2 linked regions of the Homo sapiens genome follow. The protein of the gene in region 2 interacts with the protein of the main gene of each other region in a biochemical or structural test. Each region holds a gene or a part of one and is shown on either strand. Other genes may lie near its edges.

What was found.
Region 1: the proteins of MATN2 (region 2) and COL1A1 form a complex in vitro, tested with the Homo sapiens proteins (one study listed by BioGRID).

Annotation. Positions count from the first base shown.
Region 1 is NC_000017.11:50,195,132-50,198,631, forward strand, and holds part of COL1A1 (collagen alpha-1(I) chain preproprotein), read right to left. Parts: intron 3,374-3,500; coding exon 3,302-3,373; intron 3,075-3,301; coding exon 3,030-3,074; intron 2,872-3,029; coding exon 2,818-2,871; intron 2,655-2,817; coding exon 2,601-2,654; intron 2,103-2,600; coding exon 2,049-2,102; intron 1,933-2,048; coding exon 1,879-1,932; intron 1,540-1,878; coding exon 1,486-1,539; intron 1,398-1,485; coding exon 1,353-1,397; intron 1,237-1,352; coding exon 1,183-1,236; intron 1,069-1,182; coding exon 1,024-1,068; intron 846-1,023; coding exon 792-845; intron 535-791; coding exon 436-534; intron 348-435; coding exon 303-347; intron 200-302; coding exon 101-199; intron 1-100. UniProt on the Homo sapiens protein: Type I collagen is a member of group I collagen (fibrillar forming collagen).
Region 2 is NC_000008.11:97,875,265-97,879,280, forward strand, and holds part of MATN2 (matrilin-2 isoform a precursor), read left to right. Parts: intron 1-4,016.

The sequences.
Region 1 (3,500 bases), on a different chromosome or scaffold from region 2:
GTCGGGGGCGCTCAGTTGGCCTGCGTCTTCCTGCTCCCCAGATGAGAGCCGCACTGGAGCCAGTGCATGGGGTGGGCAGAAGGGAGAGTTTGGTACTCACGCTGTTACCCTTGGGACCAGGAGGGCCGCCGGGGCCCTGGGGTCCAGAGGGGCCTCGGGCACCAGGGAAGCCAGGAGCACCAGCAATACCAGGAGCACCCTGTGGGAGGCAGACAGCCAGGGCGTGAGCCTAGGAGCAGAGGGAAAGGGGCAGGCAGGCTGCAGGCGGCAGGAGTGGGACTGAAGCCTGGCAGGATACTTACATTGGCACCTTTAGCACCAGGCTGTCCATCAGCACCAGGGTTTCCCTGTGGCACAGAGAAAGGAGTGTCAGCAACAGGCAAGGACTCTGAGGTTAGAAAGTGGCAAAGGGGACACTGAGTCGGGGACACTTACAGCAGGGCCAGCAGCACCAGCAGGGCCAGGGGGGCCAGGCTCACCACGCACACCCTGGGGACCTTCAGAGCCTCGGGGCCCTTGGGGACCAGCTTCACCCTGAATCAGAAGAAAGGACATATCAGAAGCCACCCTGGGAAACCCAACCTTGCCTCTCGGGATGGCAGGAGGAAGGGGAGACAGGGACAGGAGAGCAATGATCAGGACTCTAAGATCAGAGACGGAGAACCCAGGACAAAGGTGTTAGTGAACGGGCTGCTCTCTTGCCACTCTGGGTCCCTTTGGTTTGGGGAACAGGGAGACATGAACCCCTTGGCCCATGAGGGTCATGCTTAGAGGAGAGTGGGGGGTCTCACCTTAGCACCAACAGCACCAGGGAAGCCAGGAGGACCAGCGGGGCCGGTGGGACCCTGTGAATGAAATGGAGATGTCAGCGAGAAGGAAGAGATGGCAGCTGCAAGTCACACCCTGGGACAGAGGAAGTCCTGGGGTTCAGACCAACATAACCTGCTCCCATTGTCAGCCCCAAGAGCAGATACTGAGACCCCTCCCCACTCCCAGGCCCTGAGGCCTACAGGCCACACTCACAGGGGGCCCGGCAGCACCAGTAGCACCATCATTTCCACGAGCACCCTGCAGGAGAGAGGGGAAGCCCCGTTAAGTCCACTGAGCACTGGCCAGTCCCTAGAGTTCCTGGGGAGCCCCTTCCAGAGCTCAGGGATCCCCCAAGGGGCCAGGAGTACTTACAGCAGGGCCAGGGGCTCCAGGGCGACCTCTCTCACCAGGCAGGCCACGGGGGCCCTGACAACCAAACCAAGAGAAGTCAGATGAGATGGGAGACAGCCTTGTTCCCCCAGGCCTCCATCTTGCCCCTGCCTCCTGCCCCATCCCTGCCCTCTGGAACTGGGCACACTCACCATCTGACCAGGAGCTCCATTTTCACCAGGGCTGCCAGGCTCACCCTGTAGATCAGAGAATAATGAGTGAGAAATTCATTCATGGTGGGACTCTGGGGATGTGGAGGACCATGATGTTCAGACAGCCTCTTACCTTAGGACCAGCAGGACCAGCATCTCCCTTGGCACCATCCAAACCACTGAAACCCTAAAGCAGGAAAGAGGTAGAAGGTAAGAACCTGTGGAGGGGGTGGAACAGCCTTGACATCCACCTAGATCTGAGAAAGAGCCTTGGGAGGTCATCACCGCCATCCCTTTGTTTCTGAGCTAGACTAAACCCCAACTGGCTCTAGATCTCACCCAATCGTTTAATCGGGACTGCTTTCCCATGGAGGGAGGTGCTTTTGGATGTCCACTCTCTGTCCCTTGGGACTTCTGTAGCTGCCACCCACCATGATGCAACTCAGTATCTTTTGGGGAAGAGGTTGGGACTGGATGGGGGTATGCTAGGGACTTGGGGAGCTTAAATGACTCAAAGGTGACTCACTCTGTGTCCCTTCATTCCAGGGAGGCCAGCTGTTCCGGGCAATCCTCGAGCACCCTGGAGAGAGATGAAGAAGACAAGGAAGGGCCATTAGAACACATCACTGTGGACCCAGCTCCTAAATGAAGCCCAAGTGCAGTGAAGCCCAGGTTCAGCCACAGCCCCCTGCTCACCTGAGGCCCAGGAGGCCCACGCTCACCAGGACGACCAGGTTTTCCAGCTTCCCCCTGAGAGGGAGAGAAAAGACCATCATGCCTCTGCCTCCCCACCACCGCCTAGGGGCTGGAAAAGTGGAGAAGGTCTCAGTCTTCTTTGGATTGTTGCAGGTCAGGTTTGGGGGCCCAGAATCTTATCTTTGAATCTAGAGCTCAGTTTAAATCTACAGTGAAACCTTCGTTTGGTGAAATCTGAGTGCCTCTAAAGGAATTTCTGTCTACTTCTGTCACCAGCATTTTAATTTCACCATCTGCGCACCAATTTCCCCAAAGGGATGGGGTTGGGGATTGCTCTAAGGTGGCTGGGGTGAGGAGAACAGTCACTTTGTTGGGGACATGGAATCATCTCACTAAGCGAAAAGATCATTGTTCCAGGGCAGTCCGTGCATCAGAGAGGACTTGCCCTCCTTCCTCTGAGTATCGTTCCCAAATGTGGTGGAGTGGAAATTGCAGGACCCAACCCATGGAGGCCATGGGGTCAGATGGTATCTTCTTGCTGGGGATACTTACATCATCTCCATTCTTTCCAGGGGGACCTGGGGGACCTCGGGGACCCATGGGACCCTAGAAAAGATAGAAGAGGTGGTTAGAATATGGATAAGAAAAAAAGAAGGGGAAGGCTGGGATTGAAGGGAAGAGGTAAGGAAGACCCCAGGCCTGGGAGTTCTTCTATAGGAGAGTCTGTGTGTTTGTAGAAGGAGTATGAATCTGTATAGAGAGTGCTTACTGAAGCTCCAGGCTCGCCAGGCTCACCAGGGGGACCTTGGAAGCCTTGGGGACCCTTGAGAAGAAGGAAAAAGATGGGTTAGAAGACAAGTCCCTGTCAACCTTCTCCAATCTTACCAAGAGATCTCTGAGCATCTCTCCTGCCCTCATCCCAGTCTTCCCTCCAAAAGACCAAAGCCCAAGGAGGCATATGAAGACGTCCTGGATACTCACAGGTGCACCAGGGGGGCCAGGGAGACCACGAGGACCAGAGGGACCCTATAGAGGGAGAAGAAAGGGGGGTCATGGTGATCCCTCTGTAGGAAAGCATGTGGATGTAGTCATTCATGCCTGTTGGGACCACCCAGTCGTCCTGCATCCTTTCTGGACTCTGAGGTCCCAAAGGTGATCTGGACCTCCCAAGCTGTCTATACCAGCCGCCTATGCCCACCTCCTCTGGATACCCATTCTCTCTTCTGTCATCCATGCTCCCCCTGCTGGCTCACCATGGGGCCAGGCACGGAAATTCCTCCGGTTGATTTCTCATCATAGCCATAAGACAGCTGGGGAGCAAAGTTCTAGAACAAACAAGAGAAGTCAGAGTGAGGACAGTGAATTGAAAGGCAGAAGACGGCACTGAGGATGGAAGAAACTGACATCATGCACTTCCTGGTGTGATGTGCTGAGAAGAATAACATTGCTTTT
Region 2 (4,016 bases):
TTCCAGAATGTGCACAATGGCCCACTCAAGAGAGAACACCTGTTAAACTCTTCAAAATTTCTCCCGCAGCTCTCAGGTCTCTCAGTCCCTCTGTTGGTGGAAGGATCTGAGGGCAATAGAGCCTGGAACTGCACACTTTATTTGTTAAGTTAATTTTTTTCTTTTAAATCAGAGGAACATATAAAAAGGTGCACAAATCATGAGGGAAATCTCAATGGAGTTTTACAAGTGAGCACTCTCCACTGTCATGTAACTGCCCCCAAGATCTGCACCCATAGCCCCCTTTGGACCCCAAATAAATTATCGTCTTCCCCTAAGGCAACTACTATTTTACCTTCTATCACCATAGGTTAATTTTGTCTGCTTTATCTTACTTTATTTTTTATTTTTATTTTGCTCTCTGGATCTGTGTAGAGTATTTGCCTGTTTTTTTTTTTTTTTTTTTTTTTGAGGTGGAGTCTCACTCTGTCGCCCAGGCTGGAGTGCAGTGGCTCGATCTCGGCTCACTGCAAGCTCCACCTCCCAGGTTCACACCATTCTCCTGCCTCAGCCTCCTGAGTAGCTGGGACTACAGGTGCCCGCCACCCTGACCAGATAATTTTTTGTATTTTTAGTAGAGATGGGGTTTCACCGTGTTAGCCAGGATGGTCTCGATCTCCTGACCTCATGATCCACCCGCCTCAGCCTCCCAAAGTGCTGGGATTACAGGCGTGAGCCACTGCGCCTGGCCGAGTATTTGCCTCCTTTTTAAGCAAACTTCTCTTTTTTTCTTTTGAGACATGGTCTGACTGTCGCCCAGGCTGGAGTGCAGTGGCATGATCCTAGCTCACTGCAACTTCCTGGCTCTAGCCAACCTCCCACCTCAGCCTCCCGAGTAGCTGAGACTACAGGCATGTGCCACCACGCTTGGCTAATTATTGTATTTTTTTTTTTTTTTTTTTTGAGACAGAGTTTCGCTCTTGTCACCCAGGCTGGAGTGCAATGGCGCAATCTCGGCTCACTGCAACCTCCGCCTCCCAGGTTCAAGTAATTCTCCTGCCTCAGCCTCCCGAGTAGCTGGGATTACAGGCATGCACCACCATGCCCGGCTAATTTTGTATTTTTAGTTGAGTTGGGATTTCTCCATGTTGGTCAGGCTGGTCTTGAACTCCCGACCTCAGGTGATCTGCCTGCCTTGGCCTCCCAAAGTGCTGGGATTACAAGCATGAGCCACCGCGCCTGGACAATTCATGTATTTTTTGTAGAGACAGGGTCTCACAATATTGACCAGGCTGGTCTTGAACTCCTGAGCTCAAGCAATCTGCTCGGCTCAGCCTCCCAAAGTGCTAGCATTACAGGCTTAAGCCACTGCGCCTGGCCTACAAACTTCTTATTGACGTATACATACAAAAAAGTACACTAATCAAGGAAGCAGCTGGATTAGTTTTCATGACATAAACCCATGTGTAACCAGCATTTTGATCAATAAATAGAACATTGCCAGCACCCAGAATCCCCGCTCAGGCTCTTTCTGTGCACTAACAAGCCAAGTCTAACCACAATCCTGATTCCTATGATTGTGGATACATTTTTTCCATTTTTGAATGTTATTTTGTTCAATGTTATATTTGTAAATTTCTCATGTAATTAATATGCCGTAATTAATTCTTTTTTATTGCTGCGTAATATCCCATTATATGGCCACACCACAGTTTTTCTGTACTATTGTTAAGGGCTGTTGAGATTGTTTCCATTCACACTTCTTTTTTTTTTTTTTTTTGAGATAAGGTCTCTGTCTGTCACCCAGGCTGAAGCACAGTGGCATGATCGTAGTTCACTGCAGCCTCAACCTCCTGGTGCTCAAGCAATCCTCCCACCTCAGCCTCCCGAGTAGCTGGGACTATAAGTGTGTACCACCATGCTCAGCTAATTTAAAAAAAATTTTTTGGGGGGGCCAGGCACAGTGGCTTATGCCCATAATCCTAACACTTTGGGAGGCCGAGGCGGGCGGATCATCTGAGGTTGGGAGTTTGAGACCTGCCTGACCAACATGGAGAAACCCTGTCTCTACTAAAAATACAAAATTAGCCGGGCATGGTGGTGCATGCCTGTAATCCCAGCTACTCTGGAGGCTGAGGCAGGAGAATTGCTTGAACCCGGGAGGCGGAGGTTGCAGTGAGTCGAGATCGCGCCATTGCATTCCAGCCTGAGCAACGAGAGTGAAACTCAGTCTCAAAAAAAAAACTTTTTTTTTTTTTGTAGAGATGAAGTCTCACTATATTGCCCAGACTGGTCTCAAATTCCTGGGCTCATGTGCTTCTCCCACCTCAGCCTCCCGAAGTGCTGGGATTACAGGCATGAGCTTCTGCTCCTTGCCTACTTCATTTTGAAAGGGAGTGACTACCTACCCATATCTCAGTTGTCATAAATGCAATTCCACCTGCAGAAATTCAGGAAGGGAAGATTGTATTTAGCACTGGTGCCAAATGCATTCATTAGGAGAGACTTAAAAACAGTCTACTGGTTAGGATTAAGTTCAGCTGCAAGTTACAGAAAAAATGAAATGACAGTGGGTTAAAGAAAGAAGTTTATTTCTGTCTTGTGTTCAAGAAGTCTGGAGACAGTGAGTGTCCAAAGTGTATGTGGGGTAAGGCCCCATGCCCTGTGCCTGGTTGCTTTTAGCATGCATAGCTTCCATTTCCATGCAGTCTCACCCAGGATTTCGGGATGACTGCTGAGTACTAAACCAAAAAACAAAAACAAAAACAAAAAAAAACAAAACCGATGTTAGAGAGGCAGGTAAGGCATTTGAAAACATTGTTTTATGGAAAAAAAAAGTTATGGAACATTTATAAAATGAAAAAAGCAGTTTTTTCTAAATTAACACATTATTTTATAACTTAAAATGTTTTAAATATGTATTTGTGACTTAACTGATACATTATTATAAGTAGATACTTGATATTTCATCTATATCCTTTAAAATATTCAAGCTGACCAAGAAATTGTATGTGGGGTCTTCCAATCAGGAAAAATAGGAGCCAGGCACAGTGCCTCACACCTGTAATCCCAGCACTTGGGAGGCCAAGGCTGGAGGATCATTGAGCCCAGGAGCTCACGGCCAGCTGGACAACATGGCAAAACCCCATCTCTACAAAAAATACAAAAACGTGGGGGTACTGGTGTAGTCTCAGTTACTGGGGAGGCTGAGGCAGGAGGATTGCTTGAGCCCAGGAGGTCAAGGCTACAATGAGCCATTATTGTGCAACTCCAACCTGGGCAGCAATGCAAGACTCTGTCTCAAAAAAAAAAAAAGAAGAAGAAGTCCAGGCATGGTCGCTCATGCCTATAATCCCAGAACTTTGGGAGAGCAAGGCGGGGGAATCACTTGAGGTCAGGAGTTCAAGACCAGCCTAGCCAACGTGGTGAAACCCCATCTTTACTAAAAATACAAAAAATTAGCTGGGCATGGTGGCGGGTGCCTGTAATCCCAGCTACTTGGGAGGCTGAGGCAGGAGAGTCACTTGAATCTAGGAGGTGGAGGTTGCAGTGAGCCGAGATCATGCCACTACACTCTAGCCTGGGCAACAAGAGCGAAACTCCATCTCAAAAAAAAAAGAAGAAGAAGGAAGATGTTATCCTCCTATTACAGTCGCCTACATTCAGGCAAACATAGTACGTAGAGGAAGACATGGACTTGACTTTGGTACTTTTTGGATGCAGAACCAGGGCCATTTTGCTTCAACTAATATTTTGTTAATTAATGAAAGATCAATAAATATGTTTGTTCAAATTAATAATTTTAAAAAAATTTATTCACACAATTTGGTACCTAGCACAAGAAGCAAACAGAGGTGACAAGGTGCATGCTGCAGCAGACAACAAACCCATTGTCAGGGGTCTATGAAGCAGTCAGTTCTCATTAGAAAACCGAGAGAATATTTTACAGCATGAGTGACATGTGAGCTGAGGCTTGAGGACTGAATGCAATTTCGATGAATGTAGAATGTAGAAATTTCAGGGTGAGGGACCGGCAT